2 separate regions of the Homo sapiens genome follow, and region 2 is linked to region 1. The links come from fine-mapping of genetic effects on plasma protein levels. Region 1 holds a variant in brackets. A gene starts in the other region. All regions are shown on their reverse strands.

Evidence for each region. PIP is the chance, under the fine-mapping model, that this variant and not a neighbour inherited with it causes the effect. The UK Biobank Pharma Proteomics Project read protein levels with antibody pairs (Olink). The fine-mapping took linkage between variants from a reference panel, not from the people measured, so its PIPs are less certain.
Region 2: CRISP2 starts here. The variant in region 1 is fine-mapped to the plasma level of the CRISP2 protein (UK Biobank, PIP above 0.99).

Annotation. Positions count from the first base shown.
Region 1 is chr7:64,011,460-64,016,852 of GRCh38, reverse strand. It overlaps ZNF722 (zinc finger protein 722), which reads right to left. Exons shown (of 4, transcript NM_001396012.1): 4 at 1-1,825. The coding sequence ends at 933. Among named protein-coding and RNA genes, the nearest start is that of ZNF722, 15 kb to the right of the region's middle. The variant G/T (reference allele first, on the strand shown) is at 3,061.
Region 2 is chr6:49,710,913-49,716,305 of GRCh38, reverse strand. It overlaps CRISP2 (cysteine rich secretory protein 2), which reads left to right and starts at 2,763. Exons shown (of 10, transcript NM_003296.4): 1 at 2,763-2,831; 2 at 3,702-3,805; 3 at 4,985-5,021.

The DNA of each region.
Region 1 (5,393 bases):
TTTCTAGTTTCTCACCAGTATGATTTCCCTTTTTTAGAAAAGTTTGAGGTATGGTTAAATGCTCTGTCACATTTTTATGCTGTAGAGTTTCTCTCCAGTATAAAATTTTTTTAATTAATAAGGATGGAAACCAGTTAAAGGCTTTGCCACATTTTTTTCTACAGTTTCAGGGGTTCTCTCCAATATCAATTATCTTACATTTATTCAGGTTTGAGGACTTTTTAAAGACATTGCCATATTCCTTATTGTAGGGTTTCTCTTAAGTATTACATCTCTTATGTATAATAAGGGTTCAAGACTAGTTAAAAGCGTTACCACATTCTTTGCTTTTGTAGGATTTCTCTCTAGAATGAATTAACAGATATTGTGTAAGGCCTGAGATGTGCTTAAAGGTTTTTTCACTTTTTTTTTTTAACCTTTCTAGGGTATCTCTAATATAAATTCTCTTAGGTTTTGGGAGGCTGAGGCAGGTGGATCACCTGAGGTTAGGAGTTCGAGACCAGCCTAGCCAACATGGTGAAACTCCATCTCTACTAAAAATGCAAAAATCAGCCAGTGTGGTGGCACATGCCTATAGTCCCAGCTACTCAGGAGGCTGAGGGAGGAGAATCACTTGAACCTGGAAGGCAGAGGTTACAGTGAGCTGAGTTTGTGCCACTGCACTGCAGCCTGGGTGACAAAGGGAGATACCATCTCAAAAAAATATTTTTTTTAAATAAATTCTCTTGGGTTCATTAAGGTTTGAGGGTTGGTCAAAGGCTTTGTTACATTTTTTTACATTTATAAAATTTTTGTCCAATATGGATTCTCTTATTTTCTATTAAGGTTTGGAACTTGTTAAAGGTTTGTCCATATTCTCTACACTTGTAGTGTTTTTTTCCAGCATAAATTATTGTATGTATTATAAGGCCTGAGGGCTAGAATTTGCCACATTATTTACTTTTGTAGGGTTTCTCTCCAGTATGAATTATCTTATGTTTAGCAAGACTTGAATGCCTCTTAAAAGCTTTGTCACATTCTTCACATTTGTAGGGTTTCTCTCCAGTATGAATTCTCTTATGTGTCTTAAGGGTTGAGGAGCAGTTAAAGGCTCTGCCACATTCTTCACATGTGTAGGGTTTCTCTCCAGTATGAATTCTCTTGTGGTCATTGAGGGTTGAGGATACGCTAAAGGCTTTGCCACATTCTTCACATTTGTAGGGTCTCTCTCCAGTATGAATTCTCTTGTGGTTAGTAAGTGTTGAGGAGCGCCTAAAAGCTTGGCCACATTCTTCACATGTGTAGGGTTTCTCTCCAGTATGAATTCTCTTATGTCTAGTAAGGTTTGAGGGCCACCTAAAGGCTTTGCCACATTCCTCACATCTGTAGGGTTTCTCTCCAGTATGAATTCTTTTATGTGTAGTACAGTTTGAGGAGCGTTTAAAGGATTTGCCGCATTCTTCACATTTGTAGGACTTCTCCTTAGTATGAATTATCTGATGTTGATTTAGGTGTGAAGGCATGCAAAACGATTTGCCATATTTTTTACATTTGAAATGTTTCTTTCCAGTATATCTTGTTTCATGTCTATTGCAATTTGAAAATTTACCAAAGACTATGACACACTTATGAGTCTGAAATATTTTGTTTTGGGTATTTGACAAACATTGCTTAACTTCATTATAACCTCCTTTGTGCACCTCACACTCACCCACACTTTTACAGCATTTTTTAAATTGTAAATTCTCATGTCCACATTTTCCATATGTTCTTGGTATTACTTTTTGGAGTGAATGTTTTATGCCCTGCTCTGGATGAAGGTCTTGGGTGAAATGAGAACACGTAACTGAAAGACATAAAAATCACAAGTTACTCCACTTACTAGACTCAGATGAATATACTTTACAAATCGAATATATAAAATTATACAAGGCACACTAGCAAAATGGCATATCAAATTACCACAGGCCATAATTCCTTCATAGATGTATAAACCTAACAAAATCATAGTGATCAAAATACCTTTGTTGGAAATTTATAGAATAAGTGTGTGCCCCATGTGAGCACAATGTCAAAAGCCATATAGAAAGAAAAGAAAAGTCTGCTACATTTGCCCAACACAGCCCTTCCTCATCCCCAGTAGAAGAACATGGTGTCTTTAATGACAGCTTTAAGTCTTCTGTGATCAAAAGTGAATGTTACAACAGCAGAAAGACTGAAGTACCATGGACAGAAAATAGGTGTAGAAAGTAGTTATTGACCAGTAATAAGAAATATGAAGAAGTCTTTTAACTGAAAAATAAATACAAAATTGCAGACAAGACACATCCTGAGAACATGTTTGCAAGACTCCCAGAATCTCTACCCAATACAATTGGTTTCAGGCTATGCCAGAAAAGAGCTGCATTATAAAGATTGTGAAAGGTAGTTTTATGTTAATGTCTAAATCTCAACCAAAGATTATAATGTATACAAAATATTTGGGCAACAAGGTCCAATCAAAAAAATCAAAATTTTCAAAAAGCAACTATAAAAATAAAGATGTATATATTAATTTTTAAAATTTAAGATAATCCGTATTTTGCTCAATGAGAAAAATGGAAAACCAGATATCAGATAAATGAGAATGTCAACAAAAGGCTTGGAATAATAAAAATAAACAATTGTGGAAGTAAAAAAGAATAAGTGAAATAATTTTAAAGTATGAAAAAAGTAATGTAAAAAATGAAGAAGCTAAACAAACAAACTAGGATATACACAAAAAGATCCATAACACATATTTAAGCAAAGTTTCAAAAGTCACAAACCAGAAGATAATCTTGGGAGCTGCAAGATAAAAGTGAGGTATTATTTATAAGCCTAGTCCTCCGAGACAACCAGTGAATTTGTCAACAGAAACCTTGCAGGTCAGAAAAGAACTGTGTTAAATGGTCAAAGGCTGAAAAAGAATCTTCATTGTGAGAATAATGTAATCAGCAAAAATGTACTACAAAATAAAGAAAAAAATAAAGATCTTCCAGAATAAACAAATGCTGAAAAAGCATATAAGCACTGCATGTACCCTAAATAAAATGCTGAAAA[G/T]AGGTCTTTCCACTTAAAATAATATGACGAAGAATATATAATCATATGAAAATACATAACTTTCTGAAAAACATGCATATATAAAAAAATAAAATTCCGTGGCATTATTGTGATGGTGCCGAAAACATTTTTAGTTATTCTTTAAAATTTGAAAGATATAAGCATAAAAATAATCATAAAACATAAAAATATACAATTAGCAATATCAATAAGAAGTATAGGGTAGATATAATGCGGACAAATTTTTCTATGCAACTGAAGTCATTTTTTTTTTACCAGTTTAAAATGTACTGTTGTAACTTTAACAGGTTTTATAAAATCTCTAATGTAGCATAAAGAAAAAAATCTTTATAGACACACAAAAGAAAATGAGTCAATTACTAGCATGAGACAAAGATTGATATTATATAATGGTAAAATGAGTCCATTTACTAGGAATCTATAACTATTATGTCTATCTATATGTATAGGCATATATAACATCACGGCTTCAAAATATATAAAGCAAATATTGACAAAAATGAAGCAAGAAATAAAATAGCAACATAAAATTATAAACATTAAGACCTCACTTTCAATAATGAATAAAAAATTTAAATAAAATATCAATTAAAAAACAGAAAGCCTGAATAACATTATACTGTGTATGAATTCATTTTGCAATGCTACAGAAAATAACCTGAGACTGGGTAATTTATAAAGAAAAAGATTTCTTTGGTTCACAGTTCAGTAGACTGTAAAAGAAGTATATGCCAGCATCTGCTTCTGGTGAGGATATGAGGAAGCTTACAATTACAGTGGAAGTCAAAAAAGAACCAAACATGTCACATGGTGAAAGATGATGCGAGTGTGAGGTGGAGGAACCAAGTTCCTTTAAGCAAGCAGCTCTCATGTGAATTAAGAGAGTGAGAACTCTATGATTACCAAGGGGATTGTGCCAAGTCATCCATAAGGGATTTGTCTCCACGATGCAAACAGCTCTCATTAGGCCCCACATCCAACACTGGAGATTACATTTCAATATGGGATTTGGAGGGCATCTACACCATATCACAAACCAAATAGGCTAAACAGACATGTACAGAACTCTCCAGTCAAAAGCAAGTGGATACACAATATTCTTATTTGCACCTGGCACATTCTGTTAGAACACATAAGTCTTAGTAAATTTCAAAAGATCAGCCAGGTGCAGTGGCTCACAGGTGTAATCTCAGCACTTTGCGAGGCCAAGGTGGAAGGATCACTTGTCCTGCAGCTGAGGGACTTGACTGTTGGAAGGAAAACTAACAAACAGAAAGGAATAGCATCCACATCAACAAAAAGGACAACCACACCAAAACCCCATCTGTAGGTCACCATCATCAAACACCAAAGGTAGATAAAACCACAAAGATGGGGAGGAACCAAAGCAGAAAAGCTGAAAATTTTAAAAATCAGAGTGCCTCTTCTCCTCCAAAGGATCACAGCCTCTTGCCAGCAACAGAACAAAGCTGGATGGAGAATGACTTTGACGAGTTGACAGAAGTAGGCTTCAGAAGATCAGTAATAACAAACTTCTCCGAGCTAAAGGAGGATGTTCGAACCCATTGCAAGGAAGCTAAAAACCTTGAAAAAAGATTAGATGAATGGCTAACTAGAATAAACAGTGTAGAGAAGACCTTAAATAACCGGATGGAGCTGAAAACCATGGCACTAGAACTATGTGACGCATGCACAAGCTTCAGTAGCCGATTCAATCAAGTGAAAGAAAGGGTATCAGTGATTGAAGATCAAATTAATGAAATGAAGTGAGAAGAGAAGTGAAATGAAGTGAGAAGAGAAGTTTAGAGAAAAAAGAGTAAAAAGAAATGAACAAAGCCTCCAAGAAATATGGGACTATGTGAAAAGACCAAATCTATGTTTGATTGGTGTACCTGAAAGTGACAGGGAGAATGGAAGCAAGCTGGAAAATACTCTGTAGGATATTATCCAGGAGAACTTCCCCAACCTAGCAAGGCAGGCCAACATTCAAATTCAGGAAATACAGAGAACATCACAAAGATACTCCTCGAGAAGAGCAACACCAAGACACATAATTGTCAGATTCACCAAAGTTGAAATGAAGGAAAAAATGTTAAGGGCAGCCAGAGAGAAAGGCCGGGTTACCCACAAAGGGAAACCCATCAGACTAACAGCAGATCTCTCAGCAGAAACTCTATGAGCCAGAAGAGAGTGGGGGCCACTATTCAACATTCTTAAAGAAAAGAATTTTCAACCCAGAATCTCATATCCAGCCAAACTAAGCTTCATAAATGAAGGAGAAATAAAATACTTTACAGACAAGCAAATGCTGA
Region 2 (5,393 bases), not on the chromosome of region 1:
CTCATGGTCACACATTTCTTTCAGCTCTTGTCATTCTAATTGAAGAGAGACCATTTGACATTCTAGCAATGGCTGCGTGGAAGCACTTAAAACCTTTGAGAGAATACAGTGTACCAGGGAAACTATTATTATGACTATCGGGAGGATAATACCAAGAGTTTGGAGTATGCTCTTTACCCAGGTTACCCATAAACCAAACCACCTAAAATTAAATAGATCAAAAAATGAGCTAAAGAGTCTACTTACTTAACTAAGCAATCTCTTCATTTATCCTCTACAGCTAAATCTCTATAGTCTTCATCTGATGTATTTCTCCATAGGCCACAAGTGCCAGCAGCTGCACAGATACTTCTCTATTCAGCCAATTCTATCATAATTTTCACAAGAGAATTTAAAGTCTGGTATTTAACTATATCCTATACAGTAGAATCTGCTATAGAGCCTACTATGAGGAATGCATTTCTAATCATTGCTTCTTTTACTCCAAACCATAGAAAAAGGAACTAACAAATGATGCCCTTCTAGAAAAGCAAAGGACTCCTGGCAATGTTCTTAGAAGTACCTGTACTATTCCTCTCAGTAATGGAGATCTACTTTCCATGTGCTCTCCAACACATTCAGGCACCAAACTTACAAGTCTTCTATTCTGGATTTGCCCTTCATACAAAATCTATCAACACTTTTTAAAAATCTCTTCATATTCCACCCTTTTGTCCTATTTCTACTACTACAAAATTAATCTGGGGAATTGTTACCACACTTATTTTTGCTGCCATCAATTTCTCAGCTCTGTAAATCACCCCATGCAGTGAGATCAGGTGGCTTTTATGAAACATTCTTTTGATCAAAGAATTTCCCAACCCTCCAAAATGTCAATGAAATTACTTTCCCATGTTATACAGAGAAGCAAATCTCCTTAGACTTCTATACAAAGTTTCCCCAACCTTTTCAACAGTCTTTCTGTCTTGAATATGCCTTGTGATATAATGATTTATCTGCTTTTGTTCTTCAACTCTTTCTCCCTTCAAATCAAGCCATACGCATTATTCAATAACAGTTCAAATGTCAAAACTTTCCTAGGTTTTACCCAGATCATATCAACTCACAGAACTCTCAATTACTGTATATATTTTTGGTCGCCCTACTTAGCATTAAACTACACTACCTAATAGTATTCTTTACTTATTCATATACATACTCCTTTCTCTCATAGTACTATGAGTCTTAGAAGAAAGAGATTTTATGTCCTTTTTTCTGTATTTTCTAAGAATCTATGTCGGGTCAATATTTACTCACTTAACAAATATTTACAAACTACCACCTATATTTGGTATTGTGTTAGTTTTGGAGATACAGCAATAATCAAGACAGACATAGCCAATTTCTGAAATTCAGGTTCACCAACAATATCTGGCACCACAGCGCTCAAGTTGCTCTCATTCTGATATCATCAATGTGAATATGGGAACAAGTAATAATTACAGGAATGACTCTTCTCCAAAAATGAAAAATAAGATATTCACAGTAAATGATAGACTATTATAGTGCTGAGAATGAATTGTTCGGCACTAGAAAGAAAGAACAAATAGGTAGGCAGAGATTTTGTGCATATAGGTATTTGAAATGTCCAATTAATAACTTAAGCAAGATATGGTGAAAACATGAATATAGAAGTGAGGGACAGATTGAGGACTAGATTTCATAAATATTTAGAAAGGCAAACTGTCAGTAATGAATTTTGATATTGGATGTAGATATAAGCGTTAAGCAGTCTAAATTCCAAAATTTTTAGTCAGTGCTGCATGAACTGAAATAAGCAGCAAAAGAAAACTAAAACAATGTCTGTGTGCTGATCCCTTGAAATTACCTTGTAACACTGCCAAAGGAAAATGGCACTGAGCACCAAGTTTGTTATAGTTTCAGTTGTGCCCAAGTGAGTCTCCAGAGTTGGTGAAATCTCAAGCCTCTTATTGCATGGCTTACAGAGAACCAAGGTATGACGGATATTAATCCTTGGCTTGACATCTTTTGACCCATCTCTCTTCCTCTAGGTCATAAGCGAATTCACTCCTTTTCGCTTTGAAAACAACTGTGAATAGAAGAAAATGCACCTATTACTCATCCGCCTTCTGAGAGAGAAAACATGTCTTTAACCCATGCTTGATACGTATGCTAAACTTGCAGCCAGTAGCCTTGGGTCAGGAGTTCTGCGTATTTTCATAAGAGTTGTTCCTGTTACTCTTCGTGAATTTTCTCACCATAAAACTGTTGCCAACGGGGAAGAGGGACAAGAACATGAAGTGTTTATGAGGGAGCCTGAAACTGACAACCTGTGTAACTGGAGTGCGTCGTTGGCATGACACTGGCAGCGCACTGCAAACTTAAGCACCTGTGGACTCCTAATTAGCTCTTTAAATTGAACTACATTAATTCAGGCATTCTTGTTTGAATGCGAACGCCTCCTTTTTCAAGCCACCCCCTGGGCAACCCGAATCCTTATATGACCTCCCTCCTCCTCCTAGTACGGCGCAGGTATGCGAACAGACATTTTCTTTCCTCATCAACTGGTGGTAATGAGAAAAAGAGAACTCTGCTTTTCACAAGGGAAAACGTGCAAGATTTTCTCCGTAGTAGGGGAGGCGGGGGCGATGGGAGGAGAGCAGCTCACGTAGGCAGATAGCGGCGATGAAAGCATAAAGCCCAGTGACGTCGCCCACACGTGGCGCCTGGCAAGTGAACAATCGCGGTGAGAGGGGCGCGCCGCAGCTCCTCAACGCCGCAACGCGCCGGCCCAACTGCAGGAAGGTCTGTGCTCTGGAGCCAGGGTAAATGTAAGACCCGGATTGGAGACTAGAAATGGCTAGGGACGGGGAGGTGGGGTGAAGCACAGGGGAGAGAACCATCGTTGAGGTGAGGGGGTTTCTGATCCTCCTTCGCTCCTCTTCCGGCATCTGGAGGGCACATAGCTAATGCCGGGCAGACTGAGAGTTCAATTTTGTTGCTTAGCGCCGACCTACCATAACTTTCAACATGCTTCTCTATGTTTAGTCTATTGAAACTCTTTACCTACCTTAAAAGAGAAATCATTCTAAGTACATAAGACCCATTGAATCATAGTAGAAGCCTGAAGTCATTTCTCAATCTGCTTTTTACGAAGTCAAATTAAGACTCTTAGTTTCTAATTGATGTTTTGAATGTACAGTTATTAGAAACTGTAATAACAATTAGAGTTGGGGTCATTGACTCTGCTGGACTTTATATCATCTATTGGCTTCCAGAATTTAAAAAAAAAATGAAGAGACAAAGCTGTTACCCCCAAATCCACGTAGTTAATACTTACCATGTGGGACACTGCTTATGGAAATGATCTTTTAAAGAATGGGTTGAAGTCCTAGATAAGGGGTTGGGAGTCTTGAAAAAAGGTTGCAATTTTCCAAGCAAGTTAGCCAACTAGTAGTTACTGAACTTCAAGAAGTCCACTTTTTTGTTAGTGTTTGAAGGAAATATCAGGGCGTTGAAATACAATCTGACCTCAGAAGGACAATATGGTCTTAACGCTGAAATCAAATAAATACAGTAAATTATTAGAAACAATACTAAACAATTGAGTCAAAATTTAAGTTTGTGACAAAGATTATAGATACCATCTATAAGGGTATTCTTCACATCTTTATTTTAAATATTTTGTTTCCTTGTTCTAGGGTTATAAAATTATACACCATGGCCCTCCTAAAGACACTCTAGGAAAACCATGTCATCCTGATCTTAAAACACCTGCAAGAAAGAGCACAGTACTTCACCATTAGTAAGTAGCAAAGAAAAAAAATGGTAGCCAACTTTTCAACTATATATCAATATGGGTTTAAAGGAATAAAATGTAATTATATGGAATAGAAAAAAATATTTTTCCTTGAATATACTCTCACCAACAGTGACATTGCTTTCATTGACTCAATGAAGATGAGTATAGGTTAGATGGTTGAGGTTATGAGAGAGAAGAGCAGCAAAGAGGAGAGTATGGCATCATGGCCTATTATAGAATTCTGGCTCATCAGATGCATACACTGGGTGATTGAGCTATACAAAACTCTTCAGGCTCCTGTGTATGGCTTTCAATGAGCTGATGAGGATACAACAGCCCAGATGTTAGAGCATTTTCCTAAAGTCAGCCAGAAGGTGTCTAATAGAACCAGGCCTTGAACATGTGAATCTCGAATTAGATTATACTGATTGTATTTTCCTATAACACCTGGAAGGAAACACATGTCTCTTAAACACTTAGTAATTAGCAATTCAATCAAACAGCATATGTTTATAGAAAGCTCTTATGAGCTCAACAAACTAGCAGACATTGCAAAAGATAATAAAAACATGAATAATTTCCGTTTATTTGTATTATGTGCATAATGTGTTTATTGTATTAGAGGTGTTACATACATTGTCCCTTCCAGTCTTCAAAGCAAAAACCTGTGATATAAAAATCTACATTTTACATAAGAAAAACACTGAAGCTTGGCATAGATTTCCCAGACCTGATGGTTTCCAAAGAATGCACCCGTAACCAATAAGCTACAGGTAGTTGATAATTAGAAAGTAAAAATCATAGACAGCTGAACTATGAGAGTTCAGCTATAAGGCAGAATCCTGGTAACCTTCACAGTAGTTAACCTGTCTTGGGTTGTCAATATAGAAATACTAGTCCAAAAAGGCCACATGCAGATTATCGTGTGCCTAAGGAGAAGGGAGAACTGATTAGAAAGGGAGGGCATGATTTACTTACTCATGTTAAAAACTATGTGGGAAGCAAATAATGTCAAAAGCATTATCAGACAACTGACAATGAAGTTTAAGGTTACTGGTATGAAAAATACTACTTCAGAACTTTGTTGACTTAGATTTATTTAACAAAACCAGAGTTTGACAAAACAGGAATATGTGTAATATATATGCTGCTCTAAACCTTCCACCTTCTTTCTTTCTAAAGATAAAGTAGATATTTCATCCTGCTCAGAAAACCAACAGTAAGTGTTAAATCATTGATTTTAATGTGAATATTTTATCATGCCAATCATTTTTATGTTGTCAAGGGTAAAATGATTAATGAGTTTGCCCATGATTTTATTTTTTTGTTTTTTGTTTGTCTGTTTGTTTGTTTGTTTTAGAGACAGGGTCTCTTTCTGTCACCCAGGCTGGAATGCAGTGCTGTGATCATAGTTCACTGCTGCCTCAAACTCCTAGGCTCAAATGATCATCCCACCTCAGCCTCCTGAGTAGCTGGGACTACAGGCACTTGCCACCATGCCCAGCTAATTATGTTTTGTTTTTGTTTGTTTGTTTTTAGTAGAGATGAGGTCTCACTGTGCTTTCCAGGCTGATCTTGAACTCCTGGGCTC